Homo sapiens: one gene and its partners. The main gene of each other region encodes a partner of the protein of the gene in region 2 in a complex. Each region holds a gene or a part of one and is shown on either strand. Other genes may lie near its edges. The genes, in order: INSR, GRB14 and HRAS.

What was found.
Region 1: the proteins of GRB14 (region 2) and INSR are in contact, whole or in part, in a crystal structure (PDB 2AUH), measured with the Homo sapiens proteins. Residues at the interface, in NP_004481.2 of Homo sapiens: Glu373, Asn374, Ser375, Leu376, Val377, Ala378, Met379, Asp380, Phe381, Ser382, Ser386, Val388, Ile389, Glu394, Val398, Ala399, Glu401, Glu402, Gly403, Leu404, Trp406, Arg407; in NP_000199.2 of Homo sapiens: Leu1065, Arg1066, Ile1069, Glu1070, Lys1112, Arg1116, Arg1163, Met1180, Arg1182, Tyr1190, Lys1192, Gly1193, Gly1194, Lys1195, Gly1196, Leu1197, Leu1198, Pro1199, Val1200, Trp1202, Ser1207, Leu1208, Lys1209, Asp1210, Gly1211, Gln1235, Asn1242, Glu1243, Leu1246.
Region 3: the proteins of GRB14 (region 2) and HRAS are in contact, whole or in part, in a crystal structure (PDB 4K81), measured with the Homo sapiens proteins. Residues at the interface, in NP_004481.2 of Homo sapiens: Val109, Lys111, Asp116, Glu117, Thr118, Ser119, Arg120, Ala121, Leu122, Asp123, Lys140, His142; in NP_001123914.1 of Homo sapiens: Glu31, Asp33, Pro34, Ile36, Glu37, Asp38, Ser39, Tyr40, Arg41, Tyr64, Met67.

What each region holds. Positions count from the first base shown.
Region 1 is NC_000019.10:7,165,310-7,172,414, forward strand, and holds part of INSR (insulin receptor isoform Long preproprotein), read right to left. Parts: coding exon 6,981-7,105; intron 5,443-6,980; coding exon 5,228-5,442; intron 2,786-5,227; coding exon 2,659-2,785; intron 1,096-2,658; coding exon 845-1,095; intron 1-844. UniProt on the Homo sapiens protein: Receptor tyrosine kinase which mediates the pleiotropic actions of insulin.
Region 2 is NC_000002.12:164,611,394-164,618,498, reverse strand, and holds part of GRB14 (growth factor receptor-bound protein 14), read left to right. Parts: intron 1-7,105. UniProt on the Homo sapiens protein: Adapter protein which modulates coupling of cell surface receptor kinases with specific signaling pathways. Binds to, and suppresses signals from, the activated insulin receptor (INSR). Potent inhibitor of insulin-stimulated MAPK3 phosphorylation.
Region 3 is NC_000011.10:532,472-539,443, reverse strand, and holds the start of HRAS (GTPase HRas), read left to right. Parts: upstream 1-3,867; 5' UTR 3,868-4,028; intron 4,029-5,068; 5' UTR 5,069-5,121; coding exon 5,122-5,232; intron 5,233-5,499; coding exon 5,500-5,678; intron 5,679-5,831; coding exon 5,832-5,991; intron 5,992-6,085; coding exon of another isoform or gene 6,086-6,167; intron 6,168-6,688; coding exon 6,689-6,808; 3' UTR 6,809-6,813; exon of another isoform or gene 6,814-6,921; 3' UTR 6,922-6,972. UniProt on the Homo sapiens protein: Involved in the activation of Ras protein signal transduction. Ras proteins bind GDP/GTP and possess intrinsic GTPase activity.

The DNA of each region.
Region 1 (7,105 bases), on a different chromosome or scaffold from region 2:
AATTGCTGTGAAATACTCCAGGCCAAAACAAACAACAAAACAAAAAGAAGTAACAAGTGGGAAGAGGGAACAGGCGTCGAGATGAAACAAAAATGACCAAAGGCTGAAGCTGGGAGGCGGCTAACTATGGGGTTTTGTTCTGTGTTGTGAATATTTGACAATTTTTCATAATAGGATGAAAAATATAAATATTCCCATCAAGTGGCTTGTTGCTACTGCCTCGTCTGAAACTATAAGCCTCAATACCCAGCTCCTTTAAAAGCCAATAACTGACTGGGCAAGGTGGCTCACACTTCTAATCCCAGGACTTTGGGAGGCCGAGGCAGGAGGATCACTTGAGGCCAGGGGTTCAAGACCAGCCTGGGTAACACAGCAACGTTCTGTCTCTACAAGAAATACAAAAATTAGCTGGGTATAGTGGTGCATGCCTGTAGTCCCAGCTACTCAGGAGGCTGAGGTGGGAGAATTACTTGAACCTGGGAGGCGGAGGTTGCAGTGAGCCGAGATCATGCCATTGCACTCCAGTCCGGGTGACAGAGTGAGACTTCATCTCAAAGAAAAAAAAAAAAAAAAGCCACACATGGTGGTATACTCTGGTAGTTCCTTCTACTTAGGAGGCTGAGGCAGAAGGATTGCTTGAGCCCAGGAGTTTGAGGCTGCAGTGAGCCATGATCACCCCACTGCATTGCACTCTAGCCTGGGTGACAAAGTAAGACCCTGTCTAAAAAAAAAAAAAAAGCCAATAACCATATCAAGGAGCATTTTATACAACCTCACTGCATCAGCCTATTAAAAGCAAGAGGTCTGATTCACATACGAATTCACATTCCCAAGACACACTCACTGGTGGCATCTGTCTGGACATAAATGATGTCACTCTTGGCCCCATAGGTCCGGCGTTCATCCGAAAAGGTGACCAGGGTCTTCACAAAGATGGCATACTGGGTCCAGGGCTTGAGACCCCGCATCAGCCACCCTGGGTGGTTCTGTGATTTGGGGTCGTTGGACCTCAGGGGTGGGTCAATGTCTACCACCGTCCAACTGTTGGAACCACACGCATCCTGCCCGTCGAACTCCGTCACATTCTGATAAGGGCTTTCAAGACAAAACAGCAGAAGGCAGTTACCCTTACAAGACCGTCACACTGAGTGCCGTGCAGATGAGGCCTGGGAAGTTACATCCCATAGGGTCACATGTTACTCACCCAACAATCTAATGCCACAAGAAAAAATAACTCGGGAACAGCCAAAGAGAAAGGAACTGTCAACCCTGACATCTCAATGAAAAAACACAGCTTGGGCATCCCTTATTCAAAACACTTGAGACTTGGCCAAGTGCAGTGGCTCACGCCTGTAATCCCAGCACTTTGGGAGGCCGAGAATGGCGGATCACCAGAAGTCAGGAGTTCGAGACCAGCCTGGCCAACATGGTGAAACCCCGTCTCTACTAAAAATACAAAAATTATCTGGGCATGGTGGCAGATGCTTGTAATCCCAGCTATTCAGGAGGTTGAGGCAGGAGAATTGCTTGAACCCGGGAGGCAGAGGTAGCATCAGCTGAGATCGCACCACTGCACTCCAGCCTGGGCGACAAAGGGAGACTCTGTTTCAAAAACATAAATAAATAAATAAATAAATAAATGCTTGGGACCAGAAGTGTTTTGGATTTTGGATATTTTGGGGTTTTGAAATATTTGCATTTTACTAGTTAATTTGCATTGTACTGGTTCAGCATCTCTAATCTAAAAATCTGAAATCTGAAATGCTCCAATAAGCATCTCCTTTGAGTATCAAGTCGGCCCACAAAAAGCTTTGGATTTTGGAGCATTATAAATTTCAGATTTTCAGATTAGGGATACTCAATCTGTAATAATAGTAATAGCAGGAGCTCCCTCACAAGTTACTGATAAGATTAGACTGTGTGTCAGTGCTCAGCAAGGCACAAGGTAAATCTTGAGGGCTAGAACTATTATTAATATTACTACTGGTCAGGTGCGGTGGCTCATGCCTGTAATCCCAGCACTTTGGGAGGCCAAGGTGGGCAGATCACCTGAGGTCAGGAGTTTGAGACCAGCCTGGCCAACATGGCAAAACCCGTCTCTATCAAAAATACACAAATTAGCTACGTGTGATGGTGTATGCCCATAATCTCAGCTACTCAAGAGACTGAGGCAGGAGAACTGCTTGAACCCGGGAGGCAGAGGTTGCAGTGAGCCAAGATCTGCCACTGCACTGTACCCTGGGCAACAGAGCAAGACTCTGTCTCAAAAAAAAAAAAAAAATTGGGGATAAAAAAGAAAAATAGATAAGCAATACATTTGATAACATCCACTTAGTAGACTGAGCTCCTGACTACTAAGGATGTCTGATGAGACATACACAGGCAAGGCAAAATAGAATATTGCCCCAGGAAACTGGCCAGTCCGGGCTTCTATGGGAAAGCTGTCTGCTTCCATTTTAGGCATTTGATAAAAGCAGACACTATTGACTTTGCATGCCATCGACTGGTGAGATTGTAAAAAGGAACCTAAGATATTTATTCCAGGAGGAGGAGGGAGATAGACAGGAACCCAAGAGGGGCAGATTGGAGCACAAACGTAGCAAGCACAGAGCCAGCCAGCCCTCGCCTCCTCAGCGTCTCTCTAACTCTTCTACTTACGCCTCTTTGTAGAACAGCATGAACCCCAAGAGGTCTCGGAAGTCGGGGGGCCAGTACGGCTCCCATCTCAGCAAGATCTTGTCAAAAGATGTCCGAATGTAAGAAAATTTAAGTAACTCATTTTCACCTGGAAAAGTTAAAACAAAAGGCAAAAATGAGCTATTTCAGTGTAGTTTCAGACCAAAGCCTGGGACCCCCACACTTCCTGGAGGGACCGTGAGAAGGCAGAGGTGACGCTGCTATTCCCTTAAGGGTCTCCTCCCCATGTGCCTGGCTGAGTATGAATGGGGGAAGATTCAAAGGTAAGAGCCAGTTTTGCAACTTGGCCACTCACACTCACGTAAGCCAATGACTTGACTCAGCCAGACAGTCAACTGAATAAGCGCAGTCTGTACCCGCGCAAGAAGGACAACCGGCCAATAGTTATTGGAGGAAGGGATTTCCAAGGGTGATGTTTGTCCTGACACAACGTTGTCTCGCATATGGACTTGTAAGACTGACCTGGAAGGAGGTGCAACTCCAGTGCAAATAAACCTATGCCAAGTGAGTTTAGAGACCCTGCAGATCATTAGACATCGGAGAGACGCATCTAAGTAATTCTCTCTGCCTAGAAGACAAACCCTCTCCTAAACCTCACCCCAACCTCGCTCTCTCTCCTTGCACTACATTTTTTTTGAGACAGTCTTGCTCTGTCACCAAGGCTGGAGTGCAGTCCACCTACCGGGTTTAAGCAATTCTCATGCCTCAGCCTCTCAAGTAGCTGGGATTACAGGCACCCACCACCACGTCCAGCTAGTTTTTGTATTTTTTTTTTTTAGTAGAGATGGAGTTTCACCACATTGGCCAGGCTGGTCTCGAACTCCTGACCTCAAGTGATCTGCCTGCCTCGGCCTCCCAGAGTGCTGGGATTCCAGGCGTGAGCCACCATGCCCAGCCCTTGCACTACATTTTGACATAAGTAACTAACTCCCCATGAAGGTATCCCAGAAGCCCTTGGCAGCTCACTGTTTAGAATCTGTCAGGGAAGTGCAGTCAGCAGGCAGCCTGCAGCTGCAGAAACTGCAGGACCTGCTGTAGCATTCCAGCCAAAACCTGACTCTCCCTGGACAGCCCCCACCTATGACTGAGCTTGGTAGATGCCTGGCCGTCCCTTTGCAATGCAGAACTTCCCTGCAGACAACCGTGGCCTTGATCTCTTTCTGGGTTTGGCCAAGACTCAGGGATGCATCACCATCTGAGACTCTCCCAGCCCTATCCTCCCTCCTTCCCGCTCTCTGTTCACAGAGGTCAGACACACGCTATTGTCAAAAGGCTCTTCATGGCTGAGCGTGGTGACTCACACCTGTAATCTCAGCACTTTGGGAGGCCGAGGCGGGAGGATCACCTGAGGTCAGGAGTTCAAGACCACCCTGGCCAACATGGCAAAACCCTGTCTCTACTAAAAATACAAAAAAAAAAATTAGCCGGGCTTGGTGGCATGTGCCTGTAATCCCAGCTATTCTGGAGGCTGAGGCGAGATAATTACCTGAACCCAGGGGAAGGAGGTTGCAGTGAGGCAAGATCACGCCACTGCACTCCAGCCCTGGGTGACAGAGCAAGACTCTGTCCCAAAAAAAAAAAAAAAAAAAAAAGAAGCTCTTCCTCTGTTTCATATTTTATGAATATTACCCTCAATACATTTTCTGCACTCCTAACTTCAACTTGGCAGTCACTTCCCAGGAGATGCAGACTGACATAGGTATTTTACTCAACTTTGAAGTCTTCAGCATCAGCCTGATACACATATAAGAAGGTGTCATCCATTCATCCATCATTCATTCATCCATTCATTCAGTGCTTGTATGACTTCATCCCGTATCCGGTACTATATGGCACAGTAAGCATAGTGATAATATTAATAAATGTGCAGAATCTGCCCTCAGTAAGAAAGCCTATCACACAGTGAGTTGTTAGAGGGAAGTAATACCCCCTGGGGGTGACTGTGATGGATGAGAGAGGACAGCCACATTATCTGGTTTGTGGACCACTTACAGCAGGGGTCCCCAGCCCCTGGGCCACAGACCAGTACTTATCCATGGCCTGTTACGAACAGGGCTGTACAGCAGGAGGTGAGTGATAGGTGAGCAAGTGAAGCTTCATCTGTATTTACAGTCACTCCCCATCGCTTGCATGACCACCTGAGTTCTGCCTCCTGTCAGATTAGCGGCGGCATTAGATTCTCACAGGGGTGTGAACCCTATTGTGAACTGTGTACATGAGGTACCTAGACTGCACACTCCTTATGAAAATCTAATGCCTGATGATCTGTCACTGTCTCCCATCACCCCCAGCTGGGACCATCTAGTTGCAGGAACACAAGCTCAGGGTTCCCATTGATTCTACATGATGGTGAGTTGTACAATTCTTTCATTATATATTACAATGTAATCATAATAGGAATAAAGTGCATAGTAAATGTAATGCACTTGAATCATGCTGAAACCATCCCCACCCACCACCAGTCCATGGAAAAACCATCTTCCACTACACCGGTCCCTCATGCCAAAAAGGTTGGGGACCAGTGACTTACAGGATGCCTGGTCCCCATTGGTCTTCAGGGCAATGTCGTTTCTCTCCTGGCGCCCCTTGGTTCCTGAAACTTCTTCCATCTTGTGGATTTCTGACAAGCAGAGTTTGGGGTTATAGTGGAAGAAGAGTTTCCCCTGAGTGATGGTGAGGTTGTGTTTGCTCCAGTCCCAGAGCTGCCTTAGGTTCTGGTTGTCCAAGGCATAGAAGGAGTAGTTCCTATGGAAAAAACACACACATCTAGTCATTCAACGGCTGGTCTTCTACAACTCCAAGATGGTGTGGCCATGCTCGGAGTTGATCTTGTTCAGTGCTACGTGCCTAATCCTCTCCACTTGCTTGGCACATACTCAACACATATTTGTTGAATGTGGATAACAGAGGAAGTTGAGGAAGTTTTCATGGCCAGGAAGGAGGCTCAGCTCAGTCTTGAAGAGGGGTGGTGAGTCTGTGATGGACTGAGGAATAGGTTTTGCAGAAACCAATTTCTGCAAATAGGGGAAATACTGATAACACAGAGGCACCTAAGCTGAGTTCAGGGAAGAGCAAAGTAGCCTGTTTTGGCCAATAGGTGACAGGAAATAGCTGTAGTTGCAATGGACCAGACCCTCTAGTATATTGCATGCCAGACCAAGACCAAGAACATGTGGCCATCCTTAATAAGGAGAAAGGAGCCATTGAAGGTTTTTGTTTGTTTGTTTGTTTGTTTTATTGAGATGGATTCTCACTCTGGTGCCTAGGCTGGAGTACAGATAATATAGTCTAAACTATATTGTTTAGACCACCTTCTCAAGTCACTTACCAGCTCATGTTGATTAACATGTCCTTTTGTCCCTTTCCCCATTTGCTGTCTGTTCTACAGATGTGAGGCTGGGGCTGAGGCAGCCATCTTGTGACCATGAGGAGCACAAAGATGGAAAGAATCTGGGTCTTCCACAGACCTCCTGCCTATGAGTCAATCTTGATCTAGCTAGTTTGAGTTTCTGCTGTTTTGCTAATAGAGTTTCTAGGACCTCAAGGAGAAGGTTGGAATATACTGGAATATACTGAGATGGAGTCCATCCCAGAAATTAGGATGGACAACCGGGACTAAGAGGGAATGTTCATTTTATGCATGCCAAACTCTACTCACAATGCAGCCCAAACAGCAAATTTAGCAAAAATTCCAGCCTGTACCCTTGGAGGATGGGCACCAAGGTTGGGCTGCTCCCACTTTTGTTTCTCAAGAATGACTATAAAAAAGCTTTTACAATTTTTGGCTGGATGGACCTTTAGGCACATTCCAAGTTCTTTTTTCCCGAGGTTTTGCCAGATATACTTTTATTTGTTTTTTATTTGTTTTTATTTGATTTTTAAAAAATCCTTAAGTTTTTCCTTTTCTTTTCTTTTTTTTTTTTTGGACAGAGTCTCACTCTGTCACCCAGGCTGGAGTGCAGTAGTGTGATCTTGGCTCACTGCAACCTCTGCCTCCCAGGTTCAAGCTATTCTCCTGCCTCAGCCTCCCAAGTAGCTGGGATTACAGGCATGCACTATCACACTTGGCTAATTTTTGTACTTTTAGTAGAGACAGGGTTTCACCATGTTGGCCAGGCTGGTCTTGAACTCCCCGCCTCAAGTGATTCACCCACGTTGGCCTCCTAAAATGCTGGGATTACAGGCATCAGCCACCACACCTGGCCAAAAAAATCCTTAAGTTGTTCTAATACACGAACTTCCTAGTTAGCACTCAGGCCATACACACAATCAGGCCCACGTACCCAATTTCCAAGGTCTCTCCTCGAATCAGACGTAACTTCCGGAAGAAGGAAAGTGACACCAGAGCGTAGGATCGGCGGATTTTTAGATACCCTGAAATTTCTTCAATGAGGCCGAGGTTGGCTTC
Region 2 (7,105 bases):
TAAACCCTTAAGTGGGTGGGACTGTAACTTTGTTTGGGGAGACAAAGAGGAGACTCTCTTGAGACCTTTATTATCAGGATGAGGTTTAAAGTCAGATCCCAAGGAAAAAACAGCCCTAGTGAAACTTCCAAGCTCTTTGAGAGTTGACTTTTTGGTTTGGATAGAAAATGGAAGTAAGGATAATAGATTTGACTGTGTGCCATGGTAGTGGAAAAAAAAAAAAGAGGCCGGGTGCGGTGGCTCACGCCTGTAATCCCAGTAATCCCAGCACTTTGGGAGGCTGAGGCGGGCAGATCACGAAGTCTGAAGATTGAGACCATCCTGTCCAACATGGTAAAACCCCGTCTCCACTAAAAATACAAAAATTAGCTGGGTGTGGTGGCCTGCACCTGTAGTCCCAGCTACTCGGGAGGCGGAGGCAGGAGAATCGCTTGAACCCAGGAGGCGGAGGCTGCAGTGAGCTGAGATTGTGCCCCTGCACTCCACTCTGAACGACAGAGCGAGAATCTGTCCCCCGCTGACACTACCCCCCCCCCCCCAAAAAAAAGATTCTGGCTTGTCCTTGAGCCAGAGTAAGAAAAGGAAATGTCTGATGATGACATAATGGTCATCTGGAAGAATTTAATAGGTAGTTCCCAAATTACTAAGGGCCTGCTATGTTTCTCACAAATCCTAGGCAGTAAGGACCCTAGCTAAGCAACAATACCATGCAAGATATATTTAAAAGATGGGGCTTTGATTTGGGGTTGTGGTAGCGGGTGGAGCCTGAACCAGAAGGAAAGTAAAGGGAAGGATATCTGGGCTGACTCACTTTAATGCTATGAATGGACACTTGCAGAATGCCTGTGTCTGAGAGATTTGTTGATGATGCAGGGTTTGTTTTGAATAGAAAGTGAGAAGAGGTGTTGGTATGCTTATGTTAGTATAGGGGACAAAAGAGAAAGAATGGGTAAAGTGCCAGGGTTAAGGCAGGATGTGCCCTAAGTGTGGATAGTCATCAGACTAGAGTAAGACGTCTTAGAGATTGATGACATTTCCTCAGATCAGGTTTAAACTGGAAAATGGGCAAAAAAAAAATAGCAAACTGGAAATGGGGAAAAGGTGATATTGTTATTGACCCCAATAGGTTTCCTGCTCTGGCCTTGTATCCTGTGTCCACAATGACCTTCTCAAAGAACACTGTACCCACACACACACCTGTACTGTTCCCTGAGCAGAGAGTCCCCGCCTGATTTTTAAAGATCCATCCCAGAGGGCTGTCCCTACCTTTGAAGGGCCCTTCTTGCTGATCTCTTCCTTGGCCCAATGGTTGAGATCTCTATGAAGACAAGGGTACCCCAAAGTTGAGGAGGAGGGAGGCTGCTTTTTACTTTATTTTATGCTTCCTTTTTCCCCCACCTAGACTTTGCATTTAGAACTGATCCTTTTGCTTTAGTTTCTTTATACACACTCAGTTCTTTGAAATGAGGAAGGTTTTGAGAATAGATGACTCTATGTAAGTGAGTCCCCCAACTCAGTAGCTTTGCAACACATATTACCCTTTTACAAGATGCTGTTTTTGGCCCAGTTTATCTGTAACCTTCAGTTGAGATGATGTAAGTGACTATGCGATATGTTCTACTGAGTATTATTTATGGTTGAAATATTATAGGAGAAGATGTCTCTTTACTTTATATTCTCTCTCATTTGTCCTGTTTAACCATTCCAGTCATTTTAGTGATTCTTTTCTCTCCACAGAAAAAGTGAAGAAAATAATTGTACTTGTTATTTACAAATCAATGACCAGAAAATTTGAGAGAATCCAGACTAAAAATGTTAAATTTCATCTGGCCTTTCAAAATCACAGTCAAAAACCATCTTACAAGTCATAAATTTTGTTTACTATTTGAGATGCCTACATAATGCATGAGTGGTAAAGTGCATTGAAGCCACAAATGGGATATGTTTTATCACTTTTTGCAAATAAAATGTCCCAAAGTGTACAATACTGTAGGCTTTCAGTACCATTATTTTTAAATGAAAGCTAGAGTGAGAGAGAATCCATATTCTTTTTTTTTTTTTTTTTTTTTTTTTGAGACGGAGTCTCGCTCTGTCGCCCAGGCTGGAGTGCAGTGGCACAATCTCGGCTTACTGCAAGCTCTGCCTCCTGGGTTCATGCCATTCTCCTGCCTCAGCCTCCCGAGTAGCTGGGACTAGAGGTGCCTGCCACCACGCCCAGCTAATTTTTTTTGTATTTTTAGTAGAGACAGGGTTTTACCGTGTTAGCCAGGATGATCTCCATCTCCTGACCTCATGATCCACCCGCCTTGGCCTCCCAAAGTGCTGGGATTACAGGCATGAGCCCCTGTGCCCCGCGAGAATTCATATTCTTTATTCCCTTTCCCTCTTTTTATAATGATGGCCAGATTTCCTAGGCATCTTTCTTTGTGTTTACTAATAAAGCAAATTTAAAGTATACCTTCCCTTACATACATGGTCCAGAAAAGTTACTTATATTAAAAGTGACTTCCATTATGAACTTAATCTCTTTTTTCTAATTTATGATTTAAATTTATAAGGAAATCATCTGTTAGTAATGAACCCTAAACACCTATTGTTTGAAGGAAAGCAAAGAGTTAGAAATCTTTATTTAGCTCTTGCAGCAGAATCAGTTCTTGTCTTTTTTGTTGACCCCTAGGTAATTTTTGTGCTTGGACATAGCCTGTGTAGTAGCTCTGGTTAATTGCTTCCCAGGACTATGTTGTACAACTAAGTAAGAATAAAGCCTCTGAAGGCTTTAGAGATTTAAAAAATGCTATGAAAACCAGTGTCATGAAATGTTTGAGTTGGATGGGATTTTTCAGATCTTCTATTCCAATATTCTTCTTTAGTGATACGTAAATTGAGTTTAAGGAATGCTATGTGGCACAGCCAGCACCTGAAATCTGGATTTCTTGAGGCTTTGACAGTCCCTTTTTAGGAAGGTACAATTTCTAAAGAAAGCAAGGACTGTAAATAAGAGTAGTATAATAATACATGTGTACCAGTGTTGTTAGTTACAACTCTCCTCATAACACAAGAAGAACAGGGGAGACAAACGCCATTTGTTAATATTCATCTAAGGACCTGGAATTCCTCTTTTTATTTCTTCCCGAAATGTAACTACGTTTTTTCTTCTAGCTTTCTTCTCCATCTTCTCCCTAAAATTGGTCTGAGAAATCTATCAAATATTTGATTTTATTATCAAATAAGATTTATTAGTATTATTAATAACCAGCTTTTGTGTGTGGTTTACGGTCCACAGGATATTATTTCATGGGAACACAAGAAAATGAGTATGTCACCTGCATTTTAAGATTACAAAAAGAGTATGCAAAAACTGGAAGGGATTTGCCCATGCTTCCACAGTTTAAATAAAGGGAGATCAAAAAGAGTATCATGTCTCAATGTGTCCTGTCCCTTACCACACTGTTTCTAGTGTATTCTTTATTAAATTAAGCCTTTTTTTGTATGTCTCAGAAAAATAAAAATTTATCTCAAATAATTAAAAAATTAGTTTTCCATATGCTCGGCCTTTTATTTCTTTTTTCTCTACCATGTCACGGACTTTCAAAGGATAAGCAGATCTCTGTCCCCAAATTAAAGGGCCTCTTATATCATTCCTTTGTGATGCCAGTAATTACCCCACTTTGGACATGCTGAACTTGTATGTGTGGTCCTATAGGAATCTTGTGTGGCTGCTACATTAACTGAAATTTCATATACTTATTTTTCTAGTATACATAGAAGTAAAAGAAGAGAAACCCATGTACATATTGTAGTTTTTCCAGACTCAGCAATTATCAAGATTTTGCCTCATTTACTCCATCTATTTCTTTTTTAAAAATTTTATTTTCTTTGCTAAAGTATTTTGAAGTATATCCTGGACACCCCATCATTGCATCTCTACGTAGTTTTGTATTCATCTCTGAAAAATGAATTTTCTTTTATATCCCAAATGCCATTATTCCCTAACATAAATAACAGCAATTCCTTGATATCGTCTAAAACCATTCATAATTGAATTTTCTCAGTTGGAATGGCTCATGAAATTCTCAAATTACAAACTGCTTAGCTTTCAAATGTCTGAAAATTAGCTCTTTGGAAGTTTAAATTCATTTTTAGATGGAAACAACATCATAAATTGTATTTAGGCCCTCTGAGCTATTTTACAAAATCCCATTTAATTGGAAACAAAACATATATGCAGAAAGAATGATAGAAACAATACTCTCTCCTATTAGGGTTTCAAACAAATCTATCTTTCCAACGGCAATTTGCTACTTTTGAGTGCTGTCACTTGATGAATATAATTTTTTGGGAGAATTTGAAAGCGTGCAGATCTTTGTAGCAGTGTTGAAGCAGGCTTTACAGCTGCGCTTCTCAAAGTGTGGTCATTAAATCACCTTCTTCAGAATCAGCAGGGATGCTTATTAAAAATATGGATACTTGGACCTCTTGCAAAACCCACTGAATAGGAATGTTCTGGGGGAGGTTATAGGAATTTGATTTTTTATATTTTTTTCTCTTTGATATGTATACAAATCAGTGCTACTCTTAATCTCTACCATTTTCAAACTGGGGCAATTGGACCTTTCAAAACTGAGGACAGTTGTGTTTTGTTGACAAAGGTGAGTATGTTACAAATGGCCTTTAGTTGGTATTTTAGCCAGGTATTGATTGTTCAGACAAAACAGAGCCTCAAATGAACCAGCCTGAAAGGCTGTGTTGTAGTACCTGAAGGCCAAAAGGTCACTGGTCTCATGAGAGGCTGAAATTGGGAGCAAGAAAGTCAGCAAAAATCAAGTCAACCACTTTCTCTATTCTCTCTCTTTTGTTCTCCCACAAACATACCACATAGTCTCTGCCTCTCCTTGCAAATTCACATCATTTTTGAGATTTCTTTGCAGTGTTGCTTGCCCTGATTTCATGTCAGTGCCAGCGGCCTCAAGTGGCTGCTCCCAAGTTTTCCACCTATTAGTGGTTCAGTACTTGGTAACTGACTGGGAACTGTATCTGGAGAGGTATGTTAGTCCAGTGTGTCCAGATCCTATTCAATCAGATGTGGCCAAGGGGACAGTGGGCCCTGGACCACTGTTCAGTCTGCAAGGGTGTGGTAACATGTGAGAAAGAGGTACAGGTTTAGTAGGTATGGCATATGGAGGCACTATGTCCTAGGGGCAGCTAGTGTCCTAGGGGAAAAAAAAGATCTCAAACAGGACACAAAAACTAATTCTAATCATATTTGTATGATATATGATGATCCACCAATTGGTTTATTTGACTTAACGTACCCAGTTCAGAGTGTTCAGCTCCTTTGTCTCAATTCACTTAATGTACGTGAAGCATACTTATTGGGCAGTTGTTTCAGTTGATGTCACCCTTCAGGGATGCTCAGCTTCCTTGTCCATTTTCCTGAGCTTACGTCTTACTGAGGTCCCTTAACCCCTGATGACAGGAATTACCAACTCAGGTTCCTTCCCACCTTATGCTAGTTACCTTCATTGTAGGAGAAGTTAGCTTTCTTTTCCTATTTTAAAACTTAAATCCCCTAGCAGATCTTCTATTTGTCAAGGTTTTATTTCTAGTTTGAAGGTTGCCTTTAATTTTTGGTTAATTTGCAGGGTACATTTGCAGTCCAAGCTTTATCTACAATATGGGTTTTCTTTTTAACGTTATTGAAATCTCAGCTTCTGGTTTGTTTTTCCCTGGGGCATATAATATGTTCTGTCAAGAGAAAGAAAATTGGAGTCATCATGGTTCAATATAAGTGTGGATTTTAATTAATATAAAAAAGATTTCTGCAGTCTTATGGATATTGCTTTGAAAAAACGTCAGCTTATGTCAAATAGTAATAAACTCTATTGTATAAGTATATGCTTATGTGTATTTCAATGGTGGTAAGCAGACCTGAGAATTGTCCTTTTGACATTACAGATAAAGGTCAGCTCAAGGGAGACCCCAGAGAATGGCCACAAGTCTTTGCCAAGGCAAGGGAGTAGAAAGAAAGGGTTCAGGATTAATTTAGAAGAGAAATGGCAGGACTGACATAGGGAGACCATCCTTTAATTCTTGTCCTTTTCTTTGGCCCACTCATTTAACATTTTTTCAAAGCCACAGAAAAAATAAACACAAATAGGAGGTTTAATATTCTTAACCAGCTTACAAATGCTTGTATTCCAGAAGATCTTTAATAAATTGGCCATTTATTCACATACATTTTTCCATAGACGTATTGTTACATGCAGTGGTTAGGTGGTCAGGCCAAAGCCTTAAAATCCATAATGGCTCCAAAGTATAGTGCTCTTACAACATTGCGTGTACCGTTTTTAAAATTGCTTCTGTGGAAAGATGTGTCAATATGATGTGACTGAAAGATATTGGAACAGGAATCAGCAAACCTAGTTTTTAATACAGTCCTACTACAGATGAGGGGTGTTATATCAGCCCATTGCTCACCCTTTCTGTACCTGAGAGCTCTACAATTTTATTGTATTCCTAGAGCAAGTGATTCTGATGGCTCCAGAAGCAGTAATGGCTCCTGTGCAGCAGATACAGGAGTCGTGGAAAGCAGGGTTTCTTTTGTTCCACTAGCCCTAGAAGCTCCCTCTTAGCCTCTGTTCAGGTATTCCCATATAGTGACCACACTTTTTTGTGATAAAGAGTATGTTTGGGGTGTCATAGGACAAAGAGCACAGGAGTCACATTCATGGAAATAATTGGGGCAGAAGGGTCTGGTTAAACTAGAAACTGCAGCAAAGTCATAGTTCAAATATTAGAAGAAGAATCAGAAAAGGAATCACATCTAGTAGGAGCCAGCTCAAGTGGTGAAGTTAAAGTACAGGACCAAGCATCTAAACTTAGAAATAAGGATACGAGATAAGATGTGACCACTTGAGGCCGGCATAGGTCCAATACACATTTGGCTCTACTTGGTTTAATAGGTACGGGGTGGTCGTAACCTCTGAATTCTCTAAATTTATCTTTCTCCACCCTCAAATCATTTATTTGATTACTTAAGCCAAAATTTAAGGAGTCCACTTTCTGTTCTTGTTAAGTACTGCTTCATCTTTCATCAAAGTAGGCT
Region 3 (6,972 bases), on a different chromosome or scaffold from region 2:
CACTGTCCTCCAGCCTGGGCAACAGAGCAAGACTCTGTCTCAAAAAAAAAAAAAAAAAAGGCTGGGTGCGGTGGCTCACACCTGTAATCCCAGCACTTTGGGAGGCTGAGGCGGGCAGATCACAAGATCAGGAGATCAAGACCATCCTGGCTAACGAGGTGAAACCCCATCTCTACTAAAGATACAAAAAACATAGTTAGCCAGGCGTGGTGGCGGACGCCTGTAGTCCCAGCTACTTGGGAGGCTGAGGCTGGGGAATGGCATGAACCCAGGAGGTGGAGCTTGCAGTGAGCCAAGATGGCACCACTGCACTCCAGCCTGGGCGACAGAGAGAGACTCCATCTCAAAAAACAAACAAACAAACAAAGATGCAGACATCTGCCTCGGCCCCAGGCCCTGGAATCATGAGCTCCAGGCGTGGAGTGACAAGTGTGCTCGGAGCGTCCAGTGTCCTCCTCCCTGACCACCTTCATGTGTCTTCAGTCTGGACCTGGACTGATCCCCTGACTGCACTCCCCACCCAGCCTTCCCAGATTTATCTTCCTGATGAGACGAGTTCCCTTCGGAGCCCTGTGTGTCTTACTACGTGTTCGGTTGAGGGCCTGCCTCGCCCCAGAGCTGTGGGCTGCACGTGGCCTGCACGTGGCCTGCGTGCTCCTCTGCTGTCCACAGTCGCAGGAGGGGATGCTCAAATATTTGTCGAAGGAATCCGTGAACAGGCAGATGCACATGTAGCCACTTAGAACGTTCTGGCCATGGCTTTTATCTGTTGACCACGTGTGGACACTGAAGATGCATCCTCTCCATCCCGTCTAGAGCTGCCCCTGTGCCAGGCGAGTTGGCCGGCTGTTGACAGAGGTGGTGGGTGGGAGTGTTGGAGCGGGGCAGTGGCTCAGGCTCTGGGTGCCTCACTGGCCTGGTCTGGAAGGTGACCATGCACCAAGGATCAAAGAAGTGAAGCCCAAAGCAGAATCTCATGGAGTTTCCAGCCCAAATCTCCCCCACTGCCTGCCTTTCTCCAGCCAGTGCAAGGCCCCAGGCCTCACAGCAGGACCCCAACACTGCATCCCCCCAAAGACTCTGGCCACCTCCATCCCAGGCCTGCCAGCCTCGAGCCTCATGGAGGGCGTGAGCTGGCGGGGTCACGGGCAGCCCCTGGACACCTATGGGTGACACTAAGGGCTGAGTCAGCTACCCTTGTCTCCTCTGTGCCCAAGAGCCCCAAGCATCAGACTGGTCTGAGCCCCAAGGCCTGGGGGTGCAAGGGGTTGGAGGCTGTGGGATCCAAAGACCCCATTGAACTCCCACCTCAGACACTGCACCTAGTGTTCTCACCCAGGCCTGAACCCATCCACACACTTCACGGCCCTGCTCCCACCCTGTGTCCCCTCTGCAAGCCCCCATGCTCCCCAAATTGGTAACTGGGGGGCCTGTCTCCACACCCCTGCTAGTGCCATTCCCTGGTGGGTAGCCATCACCTCTGGGTCCCCTGCTGCCCTCGCCCCTTCACCATGGGGGCTCGGAAGGCAGAGCCCGCTCCCCTCCTGAGCCCCACCCTGGAACCCTGAGCACCCTGGGTCATTGCCTCTGAGTCTCCCTCAGGGGCAGGGCTTGGGGCCCCTCCTGTCTCCTGACAGGGAGCCCTTTCAGTGCAGGGCCAGGGGGTGGTGGAGGCAAGGGTCCTCAGGGGACCAGATCTGACATGCGGGGCCATCACTGGGTCCCCGATGGCTGTGCTGCTTCGTCCCCGCGCCCACGCCTCGGCGCAGGTTCCCTCCTGGCACCGGTCATAGGGCGAGGCTTGCGGCTCCCACCCCAAGGGTGCGCTCGGCTCTCACCTGAGGGCTCAGCCTAGGTGTCCGGCCCTGGCAGCTCGGCCCTGGGCGCCCTCCACCTCCAGGCGCTGTCTCCTACTCCAGGCTGTTCTTCCGGCCGCCGCGGGGTTGCGGCCTGGGCGCCATAGCAACGGGAGCCAGGCCTCATTTGAATACGCAAATATTTATAAGTCGCCGGGGGCTCGGGTTCCGTGCGGCTGAGCCACGCCCCTTAGCAACGGTCGCTAGGGCGGGGCCACGTGGACTGGCACGTGCGTGGGCGCCCCTGCTGCGGGCGATCCCAGGGGAAGGTGACGCGCCACCAACTCGAGTTGGGTGGGCGCAGGCGCGTCAGGTGCCAGCTTCCTGCGGCTCCGTGCCTGGGCCGTCGCGATGCACGTGTCGCGTTTCCTCGCGATCCTGGCGCTTCCCACGCGGGGCGGGTAAAGGCGGTCTCTGCTGGAGGCTCGCGCCCACCTTTCCCAGGTGGAAGGGTCGCCCCTGGGGCCGAGGCCTGCCGTCCTGACCTTCGGTTGGAAGTGAGGCCGACGGCAAAAGGAAGCACCGGGGGAAGCGCCCCCGAGGACCAGGAAACACACACCGGACGCCGGAGCGCACCCGAGTGCCCGGCCCGCGGGACACGCTGCCGCCCGCCGTCCAGTCGCCGCTTCTCACTCGCGTTCATGCGTGTCCGCCCCGAGCCGAGCTCTGACTGCGACCGCGCGGTGGACGGACGGCAGGCGGGACCCCCGGGACCGCACGTGGGTGGAGCCCCGGGTCAGCAGCGACCGGCGCAGGAGGGCGAGGCGGGCGCTGGACTGGGCAGAGGCAGGGTTTGCCTGACTGTAAAACGCCTTTTTTGTTTTGAGACGAAGTAGCGCTCTGTTGCCCAGTGCAGTGGCGCGATTTCGGCTCACCGCAACATCCGCCTCCCGGGTTCCAGCGATTCTCCTGCCTCAGCCTCCCGAGTAGCTGGGACTACAGGCGCGCGCCACTGCAGCCGACTAATTTTTTGTGTTTTTAGTAGAGACAGGGTTTCATCATGTTGGCCAGGCTGGTCTTGAACTCCTGACCTCAAGTAATCCACCCGCTTAGGCCTCCCGAAGTGCTGGGATTATAGGCGTGAGCCACCGCGCCCGGCCCTTTTTGTTTTTTAATGAGGATGTATTTCTGATTCCTTTGCAATTTTAAAAAATGTTAAAAACATGTCTTTTTGGGTTTGAAAGAGCTAGGATGTGCGTCTATGTGCTTGGGGTGAGCCCTGGGCACTTCGCTCCCCTGTGGCAACTTGTGGGTACGGTTTAACTGGACCACGCTGAGCTTCTGCAGCGTTGGAACCTCAAGTTTGGGGGGACTGGGCGGGCAGGGTCGCCTGCCACGCAGGCCCGAGAAAGAGGAGAGTGGTGGAGGGGGCGTTCTCACGCCTGGCCCCAGGGCACACGGCTGCGCCCGCCGCCCGGAACCCCACCGGGGCTGCAAGCGTCCTCGGGGTGGGTTGCGGTGGGAGTAGGGGAGCTGGGGTGCGTGGTGGTAGGTGGGGTGCGCGGCCGCTCCACCTGCGCGGAAGGGCAGCCGGGCAACCGGACCCCGCGGCCACCCGGGGGCCCCCAGCTCCGAGCATCCCGCCTTGGTCCCGGCGGATCCCAGCCTTTCCCCAGCCCGTAGCCCCGGGACCTCCGCGGTGGGCGGCGCCGCGCTGCCGGCGCAGGGAGGGCCTCTGGTGCACCGGCACCGCTGAGTCGGGTTCTCTCGCCGGCCTGTTCCCGGGAGAGCCCGGGGCCCTGCTCGGAGATGCCGCCCCGGGCCCCCAGACACCGGCTCCCTGGCCTTCCTCGAGCAACCCCGAGCTCGGCTCCGGTCTCCAGCCAAGCCCAACCCCGAGAGGCCGCGGCCCTACTGGCTCCGCCTCCCGCGTTGCTCCCGGAAGCCCCGCCCGACCGCGGCTCCTGACAGACGGGCCGCTCAGCCAACCGGGGTGGGGCGGGGCCCGATGGCGCGCAGCCAATGGTAGGCCGCGCCTGGCAGACGGACGGGCGCGGGGCGGGGCGTGCGCAGGCCCGCCCGAGTCTCCGCCGCCCGTGCCCTGCGCCCGCAACCCGAGCCGCACCCGCCGCGGACGGAGCCCATGCGCGGGGCGAACCGCGCGCCCCCGCCCCCGCCCCGCCCCGGCCTCGGCCCCGGCCCTGGCCCCGGGGGCAGTCGCGCCTGTGAACGGTGAGTGCGGGCAGGGATCGGCCGGGCCGCGCGCCCTCCTCGCCCCCAGGCGGCAGCAATACGCGCGGCGCGGGCCGGGGGCGCGGGGCCGGCGGGCGTAAGCGGCGGCGGCGGCGGCGGCGGCGGGTGGGTGGGGCCGGGCGGGGCCCGCGGGCACAGGTGAGCGGGCGTCGGGGGCTGCGGCGGGCGGGGGCCCCTTCCTCCCTGGGGCCTGCGGGAATCCGGGCCCCACCCGTGGCCTCGCGCTGGGCACGGTCCCCACGCCGGCGTACCCGGGAGCCTCGGGCCCGGCGCCCTCACACCCGGGGGCGTCTGGGAGGAGGCGGCCGCGGCCACGGCACGCCCGGGCACCCCCGATTCAGCATCACAGGTCGCGGACCAGGCCGGGGGCCTCAGCCCCAGTGCCTTTTCCCTCTCCGGGTCTCCCGCGCCGCTTCTCGGCCCCTTCCTGTCGCTCAGTCCCTGCTTCCCAGGAGCTCCTCTGTCTTCTCCAGCTTTCTGTGGCTGAAAGATGCCCCCGGTTCCCCGCCGGGGGTGCGGGGCGCTGCCCGGGTCTGCCCTCCCCTCGGCGGCGCCTAGTACGCAGTAGGCGCTCAGCAAATACTTGTCGGAGGCACCAGCGCCGCGGGGCCTGCAGGCTGGCACTAGCCTGCCCGGGCACGCCGTGGCGCGCTCCGCCGTGGCCAGACCTGTTCTGGAGGACGGTAACCTCAGCCCTCGGGCGCCTCCCTTTAGCCTTTCTGCCGACCCAGCAGCTTCTAATTTGGGTGCGTGGTTGAGAGCGCTCAGCTGTCAGCCCTGCCTTTGAGGGCTGGGTCCCTTTTCCCATCACTGGGTCATTAAGAGCAAGTGGGGGCGAGGCGACAGCCCTCCCGCACGCTGGGTTGCAGCTGCACAGGTAGGCACGCTGCAGTCCTTGCTGCCTGGCGTTGGGGCCCAGGGACCGCTGTGGGTTTGCCCTTCAGATGGCCCTGCCAGCAGCTGCCCTGTGGGGCCTGGGGCTGGGCCTGGGCCTGGCTGAGCAGGGCCCTCCTTGGCAGGTGGGGCAGGAGACCCTGTAGGAGGACCCCGGGCCGCAGGCCCCTGAGGAGCGATGACGGAATATAAGCTGGTGGTGGTGGGCGCCGGCGGTGTGGGCAAGAGTGCGCTGACCATCCAGCTGATCCAGAACCATTTTGTGGACGAATACGACCCCACTATAGAGGTGAGCCTGGCGCCGCCGTCCAGGTGCCAGCAGCTGCTGCGGGCGAGCCCAGGACACAGCCAGGATAGGGCTGGCTGCAGCCCCTGGTCCCCTGCATGGTGCTGTGGCCCTGTCTCCTGCTTCCTCTAGAGGAGGGGAGTCCCTCGTCTCAGCACCCCAGGAGAGGAGGGGGCATGAGGGGCATGAGAGGTACCAGGGAGAGGCTGGCTGTGTGAACTCCCCCCACGGAAGGTCCTGAGGGGGTCCCTGAGCCCTGTCCTCCTGCAGGATTCCTACCGGAAGCAGGTGGTCATTGATGGGGAGACGTGCCTGTTGGACATCCTGGATACCGCCGGCCAGGAGGAGTACAGCGCCATGCGGGACCAGTACATGCGCACCGGGGAGGGCTTCCTGTGTGTGTTTGCCATCAACAACACCAAGTCTTTTGAGGACATCCACCAGTACAGGTGAACCCCGTGAGGCTGGCCCGGGAGCCCACGCCGCACAGGTGGGGCCAGGCCGGCTGCGTCCAGGCAGGGGCCTCCTGTCCTCTCTGCGCATGTCCTGGATGCCGCTGCGCCTGCAGCCCCCGTAGCCAGCTCTCGCTTTCCACCTCTCAGGGAGCAGATCAAACGGGTGAAGGACTCGGATGACGTGCCCATGGTGCTGGTGGGGAACAAGTGTGACCTGGCTGCACGCACTGTGGAATCTCGGCAGGCTCAGGACCTCGCCCGAAGCTACGGCATCCCCTACATCGAGACCTCGGCCAAGACCCGGCAGGTGAGGCAGCTCTCCACCCCACAGCTAGCCAGGGACCCGCCCCGCCCCGCCCCAGCCAGGGAGCAGCACTCACTGACCCTCTCCCTTGACACAGGGCAGCCGCTCTGGCTCTAGCTCCAGCTCCGGGACCCTCTGGGACCCCCCGGGACCCATGTGACCCAGCGGCCCCTCGCGCTGTAAGTCTCCCGGGACGGCAGGGCAGTGAGGGAGGCGAGGGCCGGGGTCTGGGCTCACGCCCTGCAGTCCTGGGCCGACACAGCTCCGGGGAAGGCGGAGGTCCTTGGGGAGAGCTGCCCTGAGCCAGGCCGGAGCGGTGACCCTGGGGCCCGGCCCCTCTTGTCCCCAGAGTGTCCCACGGGCACCTGTTGGTTCTGAGTCTTAGTGGGGCTACTGGGGACACGGGCCGTAGCTGAGTCGAGAGCTGGGTGCAGGGTGGTCAAACCCTGGCCAGACCTGGAGTTCAGGAGGGCCCCGGGCCACCCTGACCTTTGAGGGGCTGCTGTAGCATGATGCGGGTGGCCCTGGGCACTTCGAGATGGCCAGAGTCCAGCTTCCCGTGTGTGTGGTGGGCCTGGGGAAGTGGCTGGTGGAGTCGGGAGCTTCGGGCCAGGCAAGGCTTGATCCCACAGCAGGGAGCCCCTCACCCAGGCAGGCGGCCACAGGCCGGTCCCTCCTGATCCCATCCCTCCTTTCCCAGGGAGTGGAGGATGCCTTCTACACGTTGGTGCGTGAGATCCGGCAGCACAAGCTGCGGAAGCTGAACCCTCCTGATGAGAGTGGCCCCGGCTGCATGAGCTGCAAGTGTGTGCTCTCCTGACGCAGGTGAGGGGGACTCCCAGGGCGGCCGCCACGCCCACCGGATGACCCCGGCTCCCCGCCCCTGCCGGTCTCCTGGCCTGCGGTCAGCAGCCTCCCTTGTGCCCCGCCCAGCACAAGCTCAGGACATGGAGGTGCCGGATGCAGGAAGGAGGTGCAGACGGA